5 linked regions of the Homo sapiens genome follow. The protein of the gene in region 5 purifies or fractionates together with the protein of the main gene of each other region. This does not show direct contact. Each region holds a gene or a part of one and is shown on either strand. Other genes may lie near its edges. The genes, in order: YEATS2, SATB2, HELZ, KAT14 and CRYBG2.

What was found.
Region 1: the proteins of CRYBG2 (region 5) and YEATS2 purify together in Homo sapiens (affinity purification with mass spectrometry; one large-scale study listed by BioGRID and IntAct). This does not show direct contact.
Region 2: the proteins of CRYBG2 (region 5) and SATB2 purify together in Homo sapiens (affinity purification with mass spectrometry; one large-scale study listed by BioGRID and IntAct). This does not show direct contact.
Region 3: the proteins of CRYBG2 (region 5) and HELZ purify together in Homo sapiens (affinity purification with mass spectrometry; one large-scale study listed by BioGRID and IntAct). This does not show direct contact.
Region 4: the proteins of CRYBG2 (region 5) and KAT14 purify together in Homo sapiens (affinity purification with mass spectrometry; one large-scale study listed by BioGRID and IntAct). This does not show direct contact.

Annotation. Positions count from the first base shown.
Region 1 is NC_000003.12:183,704,289-183,707,809, forward strand, and holds part of YEATS2 (YEATS domain-containing protein 2), read left to right. Parts: intron 1-3,521. UniProt on the Homo sapiens protein: Chromatin reader component of the ATAC complex, a complex with histone acetyltransferase activity on histones H3 and H4. YEATS2 specifically recognizes and binds histone H3 crotonylated at 'Lys-27' (H3K27cr).
Region 2 is NC_000002.12:199,346,428-199,349,948, forward strand, and holds part of SATB2 (DNA-binding protein SATB2), read right to left. Parts: intron 2,747-3,521; coding exon 2,274-2,746; intron 1-2,273. UniProt on the Homo sapiens protein: Binds to DNA, at nuclear matrix- or scaffold-associated regions. Thought to recognize the sugar-phosphate structure of double-stranded DNA.
Region 3 is NC_000017.11:67,102,191-67,105,711, reverse strand, and holds part of HELZ (probable helicase with zinc finger domain), read left to right. Parts: intron 1-3,521. UniProt on the Homo sapiens protein: May act as a helicase that plays a role in RNA metabolism in multiple tissues and organs within the developing embryo.
Region 4 is NC_000020.11:18,182,862-18,185,718, reverse strand, and holds part of KAT14 (cysteine-rich protein 2-binding protein), read right to left. Parts: intron 2,597-2,857; coding exon 2,421-2,596; intron 1,118-2,420; coding exon 927-1,117; intron 1-926. UniProt on the Homo sapiens protein: Component of the ATAC complex, a complex with histone acetyltransferase activity on histones H3 and H4. May function as a scaffold for the ATAC complex to promote ATAC complex stability. Has also weak histone acetyltransferase activity toward histone H4.
Region 5 is NC_000001.11:26,326,613-26,330,133, forward strand, and holds part of CRYBG2 (beta/gamma crystallin domain-containing protein 2), read right to left. Parts: intron 2,262-3,521; coding exon 2,122-2,261; intron 1,721-2,121; coding exon 1,597-1,720; intron 1-1,596.

The sequences.
Region 1 (3,521 bases), on a different chromosome or scaffold from region 5:
TAAAACTTTCCAGTTATGATGCATTATGCTTTTAATACCCTGCTGGATTGGATTTGTATGTGTATTTGCAGTGAAAGCTTGTTTGCCATTTTCCTCTGATGGTGACTTTTGACCACATTTCCATAGGTTTGGAGATACTGTGTTCTCGTTAGTTTTTAAATAGTCTGTTACTTTAGTTTTAATTTCTTCTTTGAGTCATGAGTTATTAGAAGAGTGTCTTATTTTCCATATCATGGTGAGCTAATATTAATTTTTATTAAGATCAGAATGTGGCTGTAATATTTCTACATTTTGCAGTAATTTGAGACTTTCTTCATATCTTACTGTATGATTTACATTTTATGAACTTTTTTTTTTTTGAGACAGAGTCTCACTCTGTTGCCCAGGCTGGAGTGCAGTGGCGTGATTTCGGCTCACTGCAACCTCCACTTCCTGGGTTCAGCAGTTCTCCTGCCTCAGCCTCCCAAGTAGCTGGGATTACAGGTATCCACAACTATGCCCAGCTAATTTTTGTATTTTTAGTAGAGACGGGGTTTTACCACATTGGCCAGGCTAGTTTCAAACTCCTGTCCTCAAGTGATCCACCCACCTTGGACTCCCAAAATGCTGGGATTACAGGCATGAGCCACTGCATCCGACCTTAATGAACTTTTATAGATATTTTTAAAAGATTTTTTTCTGTTGGGTTCAGAGTTGTGTGTATTTGTTAATTCTGGCTTGTTAATTACCAGATATATATCTATATCATCTTTTTTGTTTGTTGTGTTTGTTTTGTTTGAGACGGGGTCTGGCTCTGTCACCCAGGCTGGAGGTGCAACGGCGCGATCTCAGCTTAACTGCAGGCTCCATCTCCTGGGCTCAAGCAATCCTCCTACCTCAGCTGCCCAAGTAGCTGGGAGTACAGGTGCTTGCCACTACTCCTAACTAATTTTTGTATTGTTTGTAGAGACAGGGTTTCACTGTGTTGCCCAGGGTGGTCTTGAACTCCTGAGCTCAAGCGAGTCACCTGCCTCAACTTCCCAAACTGCTGGGATTACAAGCGTGAGCCACCACGCCCGGCCTATCATCTGTATTTTTATAAATTGTCTTAATCTTTTAAATTTTATATAGAGATGTGTGATTTCTTAAACTTTCCTTTTTCTGTTTGTTGTATGTATTTTGATACTATATTGTTGGATGTATAGTTTAAGATGTATTTTTGTGATTGTGCCTTTAATAACATCATCTTTATCATGTTATTTTTTTTGCCTTGAATTCTATTATTAATATTGCCTTGCTTACTGTCTTTTTGTTTGCATGTGTCTGTGTATAATAACTTTGTACATTCTTTTAAACATTTAGCTAAAGAGCCTTTAAAGATGTAGCAATATCAACAAATAGATTAATGATGAAAACTAATGTAAGGTAGTAGTTATGTTCCCTGTGGTCATTTATATTTTGGCAGATATTTTAGTTAATCCTTCATTTATGGCTGGGCGCAGTGGCTCACGCCTCTAATCCCAGCACTTTGGGAGGCCGGGGCAGGCAGATCACGAGTTGAGGAGATCGAGACCATCCTGGCTAACATGGTGGAACTCCATCTTTAGTAAAAATGCAAAAAAATTAGCCAGGCATGGTGGCGGGCGCCTGTAGTCCCAGCTACTCGGGAGGCTGAGGCAGGAGAATGGCCTGACCCGGGAGGCGGAGCTTGTAGTGAGCCAAGATCGCACCACTGCACTCCATCCTGGGTGACAGAGCAAGACTGTTTCAAAAAAAAAAAAAAAATCCTTCATTTATTTTTCCAGATAGTAATATTGAGCACTTCCAGGAACTTTGGAGGGAGAAGGTAGGGAGAGCTGTGTTGGATGGGGCACGGTCAAGGAAGGCCCCTGATAAGGGGGAGATTTCAGCTGGAATCTGATTAAGCTAACCTAAGAAAAGAGCATTCCAGATAGAAGGAGCCATGATTCCAAAAGCTCAAAGGAAAATTGGGAGTATATTTGAGGGATAGAAAACCAACCTGTCTGGATCTTAAAGATTAAGGATGGAGAGGGAGACAGGGCGCAGTTCACATCTCTTAGGTCATGTTAAGGAATGGAAATTTGTTCTAAATGTTATGAAAAGCTATTTGAAGGATTCAAGCAGGGGATGACATGATCAGAAAAATATTCTTATTGTCCTTTTCTAAAGTGAGGTATAGTTTACAGACAGTGAAATACAGATTTTGCGTGTACAGTTGGGTGTTTTTGCAATTGGATATACATACCCATCTAACCTACACTCTTATTAAGATTAGTGGAGCACTGTGGGAGGCCAAGACGGGCAGATCACCTGAGATCGGGAGTTCGAGACCAGCATGACCAACATGGAGAAACCCCGTCTCTACTAAAAATACAAAATTAGCCCGGCGCGGTGGCGCATACTTGTAATCCCAGCTACCCAGGAGGCTGAGGCAGGAGAATCGCTTGAACCCGGGAGGCGGAGGTTGCCGCGAGCTGAGATTGTGCCATTGCACTCCAGCCTGGACAACAAGAGCGAAACTCTGTCTCAAAAAAAAAAAAGTTAGGTGGAGCATTGGTAATCCAAAAATCTGAATCTTAAATGCTCCAAAATCTGAAACTTCTTAAGCACCAACATGATGCCACAGTGGAAAATTTCACACCTGACCTTGTGACTGGTCAGTTAAAACATAGTCAAAACTTTGTGTTATGTTTTGAATTATTTAAAATGTTGTATAAAATTACCTTCAGGCTCTGTGTGTAAGATATTTATGAAGCGTAAATGAATTTCATGTTTAGATTTGGGTTCCTTCCCAAAGATATCTTACTATGTATATGCAAATATTCCAAAATCCAAAACAGTATGAAATCTGAAACAGTTCTGGTCCCAGGCATCTTGGGTAAGGAATACTCAACCTGAATAAAATATTTCTAAGAAAAAAGTCTTCATTCCTCTTCCCAGTCAGTCCCTAACACCAGCACCTCCAACTATGATTCTCATTTCTTTCACTATAGATTAATTTGTCTCTTCTAGAACTTAAGTGGGATAATTTAGCTTGTACTCTTGTGTTTGCCTTCTTTGGCTTGCCATAATGATTTTGAGGTTCATTTCTGTTGTTGCCTGCATCAAGAGTTCATTGAGTATACCACGATTTGTTCGTCCATTCCTCTGGTTTGGACTTTTGAGACATTTTTGAAATGTCATTGGCTAATGGAAAATGGATTGTAGAGTCTTATTCAGATATTTAATAAAGGAACACTGGTTGTCTTGTTTACAAAAGAGAATGTATTTTCTTTTAAGACTGTAGAAAGGACAGGGCCAGGAACTATGAAATCATTATCAGCATCTTAGGAATGCCTGTCTGTATGGAAGCAGATAGAAAATGATTGTACTACTCCCCTTCCCCACCTATTTTTTTTTTTTTTTTTTTTTTTGAGACGAAGTCTCACTCTGTCACCCAGGCTGGAGTGCAGTGGCGCAATCTCGGATCACTGCAACCTCTGCCTCCCGGGTTCAAGCAATTCTCCTGCCCTGAGTAGCTG
Region 2 (3,521 bases), on a different chromosome or scaffold from region 5:
GTGAGCCACCGCACCCAGCACAAAAACTCATTTTTCAATGACTCATTAATCATACGACAATTTCAAAACTAATAAAAATTTAAATCGCCTACATAATAGAAATACATTTCAATTCAACCAGAGATCCAACACACTTTCGAATAAAGAGAGAAAAAATGTATTAACTGACTTAACAAAAACGCTATTTATTTAACTCACGCAGTATTGCTTAAAGAGTATCTACAAAATTCTTACCTCAATGTTTTCTTGCAAGAGACGTGGAAACCAAAAGTAAACAGACCCTCTTTAACAATGAACCACTGATAAACATAAAATATTTATAACTGGTATAACATTTCACTTAGGTGCATTTTTTGAGTGTTAACTTGCATCAGGCAATCCAATTTACCAACATTTATCAGATTTCTCCCCAGTGAGAGTTTTCACTTAACTTTTTTTTTTTTTTTTTTTTTTTTGAGATGGAGTTTCACTCTCACTCAGGCTGGAGTGCAGTGGCATGATCTCGGCTCACTGCAGCCTCCGCCTCCTGGGTTCAAGGGATTCTTCTGCCTCAGCCTCCTGAGTAGCTGAGACTACAGGCACGCATCACCACGCCCAGCTAATTTTTTTGTTTTGTTCTGTTTTAGTAGAGATGGTGTTTTACCATCTTGCCCAGGCTGGTCTTGAACTCCTGACCTCAAGTGATCCGCCCACCTTGGCCTCCCAAAGTGCTAGGACTACAGACATGAGCCACTGTGCCCAGCCCCTTAACTTCTGAAGTAATCATTAAATTTGGAAACATTCCTGTATTTTCCAAATTATTGAGGTTTCAATCCAGCATGCTTTCTTTCATTTGTAAGGTCCATCTACAGCGTGTGTTATCATGTGTCTCTGAACAGGTATCAGATAAATGAAAGCATTCCTACATTCTGTACGTTCACAGGGTTTTTCTCAGAAATCAGTTGTTTTATGTCTTCAAATTATTCCTGCATTTTTTAACTCAACATCTTTCCTATGAATGTCTTTACCTTAAAATAATAATCTTCTTCTTCATCATCTTTGCCTGCTGTACTTTATTAATCCTTCAAGGTCTAACCCATTGACAACCTAATACTCTAGAGTGTTGTTTACATATGTGCTTGCCCATTATCTTTTTCCTCTTTGCACCCACATAGAGCTTAGCTTCCTGCCTTGCATTTACGAGGGTGCTGAAATTTTAATCTACTGTTTTCTTGAAGGCTTACCATATTCATTCTCCTGGAAGTATTCCTCACCTCCAGCTCACCATGAACCTCCACCACAACTATTGCTTACACTCTCCAACATTACTCATAACACTTCACATTTTACTCTAATTATCTGGTTACCTGGTTTTCACCACTAGATCGTTAGCTCCCCGAGATTATGCACATCTGCTTTGTTCTTACTCATATAAGGGCTAGGTAAGTTTTTCTCAACATGCGGCCCCGGATCAGTACCATCATAATCACCTGGGATCTTGTTAGAAATGTCCATTTCTGAGTCCAACCTCAGACTTACTCAATCAGAAACTATGGGATGAGGCCCAGCAGTCTGTGTTTCACAGCCCTCCAGGTGATTCTGATGCACACTCCAGTTTAAGAACTACTAGCAGAAAAGAATGTCTTACATATAAGCACCCTCAATAAAAATAAGACGTGTGAATTAACTGTTTACATTTTCAACATTTAGTGTTATAATTGGCATATAATTCTCTCAAACATTAAAAATAAAAGTAAACTATCCATTATCATTTTATCAATATCTTAAATCTAACTTTTATGTTTTGAAGGATTTTTATAAATTTTTAAATAAAACTTTACTTATAAAATTATAAAACATAATTTTATTTCTTTTATAACGTTCAAAACCAAGGGAAAAAAATAGATTGTCTGGGCATGCATAGTTTTATAATTTGTTTTAAAAAATGGCAAGAGACTGATAATCACAAAATTCAAGATCAGGGTTACATCTGCAAACAGTAAATGGAGAGGATGAGAGAGTACATACCCAAGTCATTAGTAACATTTGGGGTCCTGAGTTGCATGTTGGGTTCAAAGATGTCCATTACCTCATCAAAATTAATCAATTAGTTAATTAATCATGGTCATGCATGGATCAATGGTAATAGCGTTTCATTAACTAAGGATTATTAATTAATCTAATTCTATGTCCTGAGATCCATAAAGCTTTTTAAAGAGATAAAAATAATTATAACCTATCTCAATTCTGTCCCCAGTATTACTGTTAATTACAGTGTTTAATGCTAATTGTACCTGTGTGCGGTTGAATGCCACTCTTGCAAAGACAGCTTGGGACACACTGGCCCTCTTCAGCTCATCTCTGACTTGCTGGTAGATATCTGGAGAGACTTCCACGGAAGAGTTGGTTGGCTCTGGCTTAACTGCTCTGGGGATGGGTGGATGGTTCAGGAACTGCTGGTTGATGGCTTGAGGATGCTGGTGAGCCAGGAGCCGGCTAACGGCAATCTGTTGGTTTATCAGATGGGCCATGGCTATTTGTTGCCTTACAAGTTGTGGACTAAGCTGGGGAGAAAGAAGACCAGGGCTCATGATGGGCTGTAATGCGGGCACTTGGTTTCGGATTGGAGTACTGTGGTGAATTTGGCTGTGAGGAGACTGTTCGTTGGTTTTCCCCAGGGATGCCAGCTGGTTCATATTTGGTAAATGCATTGGACGCTGGCCCAGAACACAATAGTCTGAAAGGTTTTCTCGTTCCACTCTTTCCACTGTTAAGAGATAAAAGTGATAATTAATCATTATTTTCATTGGTACAATTTATTGCTAATATATGTAGAACTGAATTATCATACTTTTGGCATGTTAATAATATAAACATTTTTTCATACAACGATGGAAGCTCCAGCATAAAAGTGATATTCTTTTCTGCTAAATGTTACAATAGATTTTTTTCATGGAACATATGAAAGAAAGTAAAATTATTTGCCACTTCAATTAGTTAAAATTCTTAAAAGTAAGCATTTCTTTAAATAGCCAAGACAGAAACCACTGACCATTCTAAATCCTCTTAGATCCCCCAAGCTCTATCATCTCCCCAATCAACCTTTGTTATAAAAGCACCAGCTGTTCCTATCTTCTGTAGTATGTAGTTAATGGTTATCAGGAAATGACAAGGATAACATCTCCTGCCAAATTAAGTGCTACCTTCTAGTAAAAAGCTCACATAAATATTATTATACAGCTATGGAAATGTTCATTTAAAAATGTCTGCCACATAGTATATCCATTTATTGACTCACTTGCTATCTTTTTTATAGAAATGTTTCTTTAAGAAATTGATATTTTAAACATTGTGCTATGCACTCAGATAAGAAAAAAAATCACAAAATTAATAACATCACCTCAACTTGCCATTAAATGAAGTTCTCCTCAGGTTATCTGCTTTATTACATTATATTGTGCTTTAATAAAGATTAAAAGAATAACTTTGAAAGGGAAAAGTAAGTATCATATATATACAAGCATAAGGCAAGTATTTTTCTT
Region 3 (3,521 bases), on a different chromosome or scaffold from region 5:
CTGACAGTCTTTCAGATTATAATGAACAGTAGTTTTACAACTGATCAGTAATGTAATTTTCAGTTAAGTGATGTTTTAGCTATTTATAATAAAATTCACATAAAAGTCACCATTTTAGCCATTTTAAATTGTACAATTTGGTGGATTTTAGTGTATTCACAATGTTATACAGTCATCACTACTGTCTAATTCCAGAACATTTCATCACCCATAAAAGAAACCCCATAACTGTTAAGCAATTACACCCCAATTTCCCCACTCTCAGATTAGTAACCACTAATCTACTTTCTGTGTCTATGGAGACATTTCATAAAAATTGAGTCATACATTATGTGGCCTTTTATATCTGGCTTTTGAAGTGCATCCACACTGTAACTTAGGAGTGGAGTTCTTGGGTGATGTAGTAAGTCTATGTTTAACTTTTTGAGGAACTGCAAACTGTGTTCTCTGCACATTTATATTCCCACAGCTATGTATGAGGATTCCAATTTCTCTATATACTCGCTTTGTAAAAAAAATTATAACCATCCTAATGGGTGTGTAGTAGGATCTCATTGTAGTGTTGTTTGTTTGTTTTTTGACACGGAGTCGCACTCAGTCGCCCAGGCTGGAGCGCAGTGGCATGATCTTGGCTCACTGCAACCTCTGCCTTCTAGGTTCAAGCAATTCTCTTGCCTCAGGCTCCTGAGTAGCTGGGACTACAGGCGCCCACCACCACACCCAGCTAATTTTGTTGTTGTTGTTGTTGTATTTTTAGTAGAGACGGGGTTTCACGATATTGGCCAGGCTGGTCTCAAACTCCTGACCTCAGGTGATCCGCCCCCAGCCTCCCAAAGTGCTGGGATTACAGGCGTAAGCCACCGCGCCCAGCCCTCACTGTAGTTTTGATTTGCATTTCCCTATTTACTGATGATGTTGACATCTTTGCATGTGCTTCTTGGTCATTTGTATCTTTTTTGGAGAAATGTCTATTCATATGCTTCAGCCATTTAAAAAAATGGTTATTTTTTTGTTACTTAGTTATAAGAGGTTTTTTTTAATGTATTCTGGTACAGACTCTTAATCTCATATATGATTTGCAATTATTTCTCTCACTGTGTGGGTTGTCTTTTCACTTTCTTGATAGTGTCCTTTGATGCTAAACTACAATTTATCTATTTTTTTCTTTGGCTGCTTATGCTTTTGGTGTCATATCCAAGAAACCCTGGCCTAATCCAAGATGGCAAAGATGTACTTTTACATTTCCTTTTTATAGTTGTTTGTTTTTTTTTTTGAAATGGCGTCTCGCTCTGTTGCACAGGCTGGAGTGCAGTGGCGCCATCTCGGCTCACTGCAAGCTCCGCCTCCCGGGTTCACGCCATTCTGCTGCCTCACCCTCCGGAATAGCTGGAACTACAGGTGTCCACCACCACACCCGGCTAATTTTTTTTGTATTTTTTTTAGTAGATACGGGGTTTCACCATGTTAGCCAGGATAGTCTCAATCTCCTGACCTCGTGATCTGCTCGCCTCGGCCTCCCAAAGTGCTGGGATTACAGGCTTGAGCCACCGCACCCGGCCCCTTTTTATAGTTTTATAGTTTTACCTCTTACACTTGGTTCTTAGTTCTTTGGTCCATTTTGAGTTAATTTTTGTATATTGTGTGAGGTGGGTATCAAATTCATTCTTTTGCATGTGGCCATACAGTTTTCTCAGCACCGCTTTTGAAAAGACTCCTTTCCCCCATTGAATAGTCTTGGCAACATTGTCAAAAATCAGTTGACTGTAGATGCTGGGTTTATTTGTGGATTCTCCATTGTATTTCATTTATCTGTGTGTCTGTCTTTCTGCCAGTACCACACTGTATTGTACACTGTAGTATTGTAGTAAGTTTTGGAATTGGAAGTATGAGTCCTTATATTTTGTTCTTTTGGAAGATTGTTTTGGCTATTCTGGGTTCCTTGAATTTTCTCATGTGAGGTTTAGGATCAGCTTACTAATTTCTTCAGAAAAAAAGCCAGCTGACATTTAAAAAAAGAATTGCTTTAAATCTCTAGATTAATTTGGGGAGTATTGCAACCTTAACAATATTAAGTCTTCGAGTACCTGAACATGGACATCTTTCTATTTGTTCAGGACGCTTAACATTTCTTTCAACAGTATTTTGTAATTTTCCAAGTATAAGTCTTGCACTTCTTTTGTTAAATTTATTCCTAAGCATTTTATTCTTTCTCATGCTATCATAAATGGAATTGTTTTCTTAATTTCATTTTTTGATTGTTCATTGCTAGTGTTTAACCACATGATGATATATTGATTGTGTATCTGCAATCTTGCTGAACTCTATTAACAGATTTTTTTGTAGATATCTTAGGCTTTTTTATATGGAAGATAATGTCATCTACAAATAAAAATAGTTTCATTCTTCCTTTCCAATCTGAATGCCTTTTATTTCTTTTTCTTGCTTAATTCTTGATTGTTTTTCTGGTTGCCACAAGCTTTTAATTAGGTTTCTAGGTTCCCAAAAAATGGATTATGACAGCTTTTGCCAATTTTTTTCTGTTTTTATGGAGGGATGGACTTTGGAGTTTCTCACTCTGCCATTTTTGCTGATATCACTTATGATGTTTTTATTTAACCTGCCAAATGAGTTCATGATATGAGGGGGAACTGTGTGCCAAAGTTTTTATAGGTTTTATGAAGTTTTGTACTTTACTAAATAATACTTCATATTGAATAATCTACTTTAGTCATTGATCTTTTTAAATGGGCCTTAATTTTGGAATTTAAGCTTTTTGTACCTTGGTGCTCTTAATGTCTGATATTTCTGTTATCTTTGTTTGTGTGTGAATAAGTACCTTTCATTGTCAGTGGGTTCTTAGAGTGAAATTTACTTTTGCAAAAACATTTGGTCAGTTTTATTTTGTTGCATGAGATTCACAAATGAGTGATTTACTGACAACACTGAAAAATTTATTTGACAAAGATAATATTTTTTTAGCACATTGCAGATTTTCACATTTTCAGTGTATTAGGGTAACTTTAGTCTGTTCAAAATGCTTTTGCATGAATCATCTCACAAAGTGAATGATTGATGTGCTTGCTGTTTATTTCCAACCTTTTAAAATAATTTCTTTAACGTTAACAACAAAGAAAAGGCTTTTCCCTCCCACTATGGATCCTTTTATTCCCAGAAAACTTAGTAGATTAATCTTGTGGGATGATATCTGGATGTTAGTGTAACAGTTCATTTAAATGGAAATGGTTGGTTACATTATGTTTCACTTGTTTTTTCTTTTTATAGTAATTTTGATTTTCTTGTGACAAATGAAATACATGGCCAGCACAGAAAATGTAGAAGTTAGAGAAATTATTTATAATTTAACTAGACAAAGATACCTACTATAACATTTAGCCTTTCCTAGCATTTATAGATGTGAATGTATGATCCATTAATGGAGGGAGATTATTTGTTGGGAAAACTTGAAACAATTTCTCTCTGCCCTTCCCCCAATTGCTATGCCCACCTATATCACCACTGAA
Region 4 (2,857 bases), on a different chromosome or scaffold from region 5:
AAATGGTTTCTAAGTAAAAGTTGACTAAAAAAAATTCTAGGGGAAAAAAATCCTTGCATGTTTTTTGATGGTGATATATGGTGTATTTTCTTCAAAGGTGATACAAATATATTAAAGGATGAATTATAATTCAATACTAGAATCAAATCTTAGAAGGTTCATATCAGCCTTATACAGTGATAGTAAAATTACAAACTATCAGCAAAAATAAAATATGTAGCTAGGCACAGTGGCTCATGCCCATAATCCCAGCACTCGGGAGGCTGAGGTGGAAGGATTGCTTGAACCAAGGAGTTCAAGCACAGACCAGGCAACACAGTGAGACCCTGTCCCTACAAAAAATCAGCCGGGCATGGCAGTGTGCACCTGTGGTCCTGGCTACCCAGAAGGCTGAGGCGGGAAAATCACTCGAGCCCAGGAGGTTGAGGCTGCAGTGAGCTATGATTGTGCAACTCCAGTCTGGGTGACAGAATGAGACCCTGTCTCAAAAAATATATACATATTCTTATTGATACAGTTGTGCTAAAATGTTTACAAATATTTAAAAAAATAAAAATAATAGTCCTACCCTCACTTCTCTGAGTTGCGAAGGTGATGATCCTAAGAGCAGTAGCTACTACTAATATGAATAGTCCACCCTAAAGCTCTTGCTTTTGGTATTTTCTCATTTTATTTATACACATGTTCACAAACTGGTTTCTATGAAACCTGAGTCTGAATAATAATCTTATTTTAGAGGGTCGAAGATTTTTGACTGTGTGCTTTGATAACCTCATGAATGCTGATGACTGGCTTTCTTCACTTGGTTTACAAGGAAACCATTCCATTGGGCCATGCTGGGAAGGGCTAGCTCAGCTTCATTCCTCCTCCAGGTTGTTCAGGGGAGCCCAGACACAGGTGATAAATCATAAACATAGACAACTTACCTGAATCAGATGATAGATCATGAAAGTTGCAATCCCTGCTCTTCTCCATTCAGGGTGGACGAACAGAAATGAAATGTAAGCTTCATTGTATTTCACATCAGGAACCATGAAGCCAAAGGCAATGATGACTTTTTTATAAAGAACAACAACACTGAAGTCTGGGTACTGCAGACACTCAGACAGGTCAATGCCTAAAGAAAAGAAACCATCGGAGACTCAAACCACATGCCTTTGAGAATTAAGGAACACCAAGCTGTTCAGCATGTACATATAGCTACACCTGCATGCTAAAAAAAAAAAAAAAAAACACCAAAACTGGAGGTAACATAGAGACCACACAACCAGATCATAAAAATAAGAGTGAATTTTAGAAAATATTGAAATTACATAGTATTTCCTAAAAGAAGAGTGGCAGAATAGGGTAGGTAGCAGTGCACGGGTTCAGAATTGGACACAGCTGGCTTTGAACTCAGCCTCCTCTACCATGTGTGGCTTGGCACATTTCAAAATGTCTCAGAGACTCCGTTTCTGCAATATGTAAGATGAAGAGCATACCTAGACCTGACAGGGTTAAGTAAAGATCCTCCGAGCGTGTTCTATCACATCCTTTACCCCCCACACATATAATTTATAAGTTCTTTTGTACAAATGCTACCTTTCACAATAAATAAGTAAAATATGCTTCTGTGCATAATGTATGGAAGGCACCTAACATAAGGGCAGGAAGCAGGAGATGCTCCCAGAATGTTACTTTTGGCTCAGTATGACTCCCAAAAGAATGAGTGCAGCTCTGCCACCACATTCACAGTTATGTGATTATGTGACAATAAAGACGACACAGCTCTATCTTGATGAAATCGTATCTAACATCTGAAAGACATGTATTATTTCCTTTAGGTTTCAAGGCAGCGTGGGAAAGCAGATCCACAAAGAATAGTTTATATTTAGCAATGCAAATGTGTTCCTTTAATTAATGACTTTGGTCTTCAGAGGCAATTTTGTTAAGGCTGATAAAATGACAAATTATATTGGGTTTACCCTTATTCTCAGTCTGTGATCAGGGCATTTGGCTTTTAAAAAACACCTTCTGGCTGTACTAATACTCTCTAAGGAACAGCTAAATAAACAAAACATAAAGAATTATTAAGCCAAAAACAAAAGTGTCCAAACACGCCCAAGCTACCAGTCTGTGTATCTTTGATAGACATTACCTGGTATCTAAACATATGCAGAAGCAAAACAGGATGAATCTTTTACTCTGGAAACAGAGACAAACAGGGAAGAGAAACAAACAAAAACACTGTTTATTGCTGGCTTCTTCTAGATTTTGGGAAAGCAAGAGGTATTTGTATTTTAATATTTCCATGTTAGCAGAGACAAACTAAACGAAATCATAAATAAAAATCTTAAGGATATCACATAAACTAATTTTAAAAATTGCTAGAATGGACTGTACAGAAAAATGACCTGCCTGGTTTGGGAGGGGGAACATACCAGGCCAAAAAAACTCCTGACACATGGAGTTGATCGTTGGGATGTGATTTGGCCGCACATAACAGTAATCGAGAGGTGCGTCGGGCTCCGGCGTCCAGTGAGGGTCGCTCCTGTGCAGGTGGGAACGAATCTGTGACAGGAGCTGCAGTTTGGGTGGCTTTGTTTCATAATCACGCCTCCGGTACCACAGAAGATAAACAAATTCAAGTCAAGAAAAATACCTGGTATTATTCCTAGCTTTTTGACTCATATAAACTCTTTGATCTGCTTGAAACTTTAAAGTAACCTGCACTGTTTTACACGAAGCTGGCTTGATTACAGCTATACTTTTATGTATGAAATCTAAAATTCACTCTGAACATTCATCAGGCCAAAGCCCTCTGTACCCACCAGGGACTGTGCTAGGTGCCTTCATGAACAGTGAGGAAACAGATACA
Region 5 (3,521 bases):
ACAAGGATAAAGTTAAAAAAAATGTGATTTTTTTCTTTTTCCTCTTCTGGGGATATTGTCTAGAGGCACTGAGAATGTTCCAGCATTTGACATATTGTCATAGGCTTTCCTACGGTACAGCCTCTAACAAAACTAGGCTGTCCTGAGCCCCTCGTAATAGAATTGTTGACCTCTATACCTACAAAGTTGGGAAAGCACCAAAATCTGCATGTGGCGTGTGCCCAGGCAGACTTCAAGGGGTTCATGTTGTGAGGTCTAAAGTTCTTATGAGATTGTCCAAAACAAAAAACATGTCAGGAGGGCCTATGGTGGTTCCAGGTATGCTAAATGTGTTCGTGGCAGGATCAAGCCTGCTTTCCTTATGCAGCAGCTAAAAATCCTTATGAAAGTGTTGAAGGCACAAGCACAGACTCAGAAAGCTAAATAAAAACTGGGCTGGGGCTGGGCACAGTGGTTCATGCCTGTAATCCCAACACTTTGGGAGGCCAAGGTGGGCAGATCACATGAGGTCAGGAGTTCAAGACCAGCCTGGCCAACATGATGAAACCCCATCTCTACTAAAAATACAAAAATTAGCTAGGCGCAGTGGCTCATGCCTGTAATCCCAGCACTCTGGGAGGCCGAAGTGGGCAGATCACAAGTCAGGCGTTCGAGACCAACCTGGCCAATTACAGTGAAACCTCGTCTCTACTAAAAATACAAAAAATTAGCCGGGTGTGGTGGCAGGCACCTGTAATCCCAGCTACTTGGGAGTCTGACGCAGGAGAATTGCTTGAACCCAGGGGGCAGAGGTTGCAGTGAGCCGAGATCACGCCATTGCACTTCAGCCCAGGTGACAGTGCGAGATTCCGTCTCAAAAAACAAAAAACAAAAAAAAAAACCAAAAATTAGCCAGATGTGGTGGCACATACTTGTAATCCCAGCTACTTCGGAGGATGAGGTAGGAGAATCACTTGAATCTGGGAAGCGGAGGTTGCAGTGAGCCGAGATCGTGCCATTGCACTCCAACCTGGGCAACAAGACCAAAACTCCATCTCAAAAAAAAAAAAAAGGGCTGGGCATGGTGGCTCACGTCTGTAATCCCAGCACTTTGGGAGGCCGAGGCAGGTGGATCACTTGAGGTCAGGAATTGGAGACCAGTCTGGCCAACATGGTGAAACCCTGCCTCTACTAAAAATACAAAAATTAGCTGAGCGTGGTAGCACGTGCCTGTGGTCCCAGTTACTTGGGAGGCTGAGGCACAAGAAGCACTTAAACCCGGGAGGTGGAGGCTGCAGTGAGCCAGGATGTTGCCACTGCGCTCCAGCCTTTGTGGCAGAGCAAGACTCTGTCACACAAAAAAAAAAAAGAAAAAGAAAGAGAAAAAAAAGCTTTTTTTAAGAAATAAAAATTAATTAAAAGACTTTTAAAAAGAGAGTTAATCTAGAGAAAAATATTAAGTAGACAATGGCTCAAGAGGAATGACGATGTGGCAAAAGTTGTGACAAAAGTACACAAATGCTGTGTTTGGGAAACACACAGCTAGACACTCATCCAGAAAGGCCTGCCCAGACACGCTCAGCCCCAGACACGCTCAGCTCCAGCCACGCTACCCACCTGCTTGATGGGGTAGAGGGAGCCCACCCTCTGGGTGCCGCTGTAGGTCAGCCAGTTGGTGATCTCGCAGCTTCCCACCAGCCACTGGCGGCCCCGGAAGTCACTGTGTTCACATAGCACCCAACTGGGCCCAGCAGGTGTCAGGGACACAGAGAAGAGCACAGACACACAGACAGACAGACAGGTGGAGGAGGAGACACAGACGTCAAAACGTTCTCCACCTCCTCTTCTCCCATGGAGGGATTCCTCTGCCTGGAATAGGGTTCCCAGGGCGGAGAGGGAGGCTGGGAAGTAGATTTGGGGTTTTCAGGGTAAAGAAGGATCCTGAGAAGCCCACCAAGCTGGGGTCTAAGCCCTGAGAGCCAGTGACCCTTCTCAGTCCGCACTTCTCCCTCCTTCCTGGCTTGGAGGGGAGTGGGGGAAAAGTGGGGAGGGGAAAGAGGCCAGAGACCCCCAGGATCTCTGTCTTGCCATGACTCATCCCCACCAGCAGCCACCGCACCCATGCCTCCCCTCAGCACTCACATGCCCCCCTTGATCCGCACAGACAGCACATGGTTGTTGAAGCCCTCGGCTTGCAGGCTCCGCACCTCCCTGCTGAGCTCGATCTCCTTCCCCTCGAAGCACTCGAGTCCATACAGGAAAATGGAAGGCTCTGAAAAGTGCTGGGGCCCAGGAGACAGAAGAGGGTGAGGCTCTGAGAGCCCAAGTCCCAGACGCAGCCCCACAATCCCAGACACCCTGACTCCCAGATCTGTATGTCAGGCCTTCTTCCCTCCTGAGCTCAGTTCTGCAGGGCCACTGATTCTTGGACGCTGCCAGCCGAGTGCTCCTGATTCTCAGAGGCAGTAAGCGCTAGGCTGGGTCCCCAGTTTCCCCCTCAAACCTCCTCTCCAGTAAATAGCACTTCTCAGAACTAACCTGGCACTCTGAGCCAGGATGGAAACCTGGGGCTTATTCTAGGCTTTTTTTTTTTTTTTTTTTTGAGACAGAGTCTCACTCTTGTCACCCAGGCTGCAGTACAGTGGCGCGATATTGGCTCACTGCAACCTCTGCCTCCCGGGTTCAAACAATTCTTCTGCCTCAGCCTCCTGAGTAGCTGGGATTACAGGCACGCACCACCATCCCCGGCTAATTTTTGTACTTTTAGTAGAGACAGGCTTTCGCCATGTTAGTCTGGCTGGTCTCAAACTCCTGACCTCAGGCGATCTGCCTCCTTGGCCTGCCAAAGTGCTGGGATTACAGGGGTGAGCCACCATGCGCAGCTTAGATTTTTTTTTTTTTTTTTTGAGATAGGGTCTCGCTCTGTTGCCCAGGCTGGAGTGCAGTGGTGCAATCACGGCTCACTGTAGCCTCAACTTCCTGGGCTAAAGCAATCCTCCCACCTCAGCCTCCTGAGTAGCTGAGACTACAGGCACATGCTACCATGCCCAGCTAATTTTTTGTAGAGACAGGGTCTCACCATGTTGCCCAGGCAGGTCTCAAACTCCTAGGCTCAAGTGATCCTCCTGCCTTAGCCTGCTGAAGTGCTATAATTTATTTACTTTATTTTTTTGAGATGGAGTCTCACTCTGTCACCCAGGCTGGAGTGCAGTGGCGCAATCTCAGCTCACTGTAACCTCCACTTTTTAAGTTCAAGCAATTCTCCTGCTTCAGCCTCCCAAGTAGCTGGGATTACAGGCATGTGCCATCATGCCCGGCTAATTTTTGTAGAGACGGGGTTTCATCATGTTGGCCAGGCTAGTCTCAAACTCCTGACCTCATGATCTGCCCGCCTTGGCTTCCCAAAGTGCTGGAACTACAGGCGTGAGCCAACACGCCCGGCCCAAAGTGCTAGAATTATAGGTACAAGCCACTGCACTTGGCTTCATTCTAGATTTCTCCTTTTCATCTTCATGATAACAATAACAACAATAATAATACTG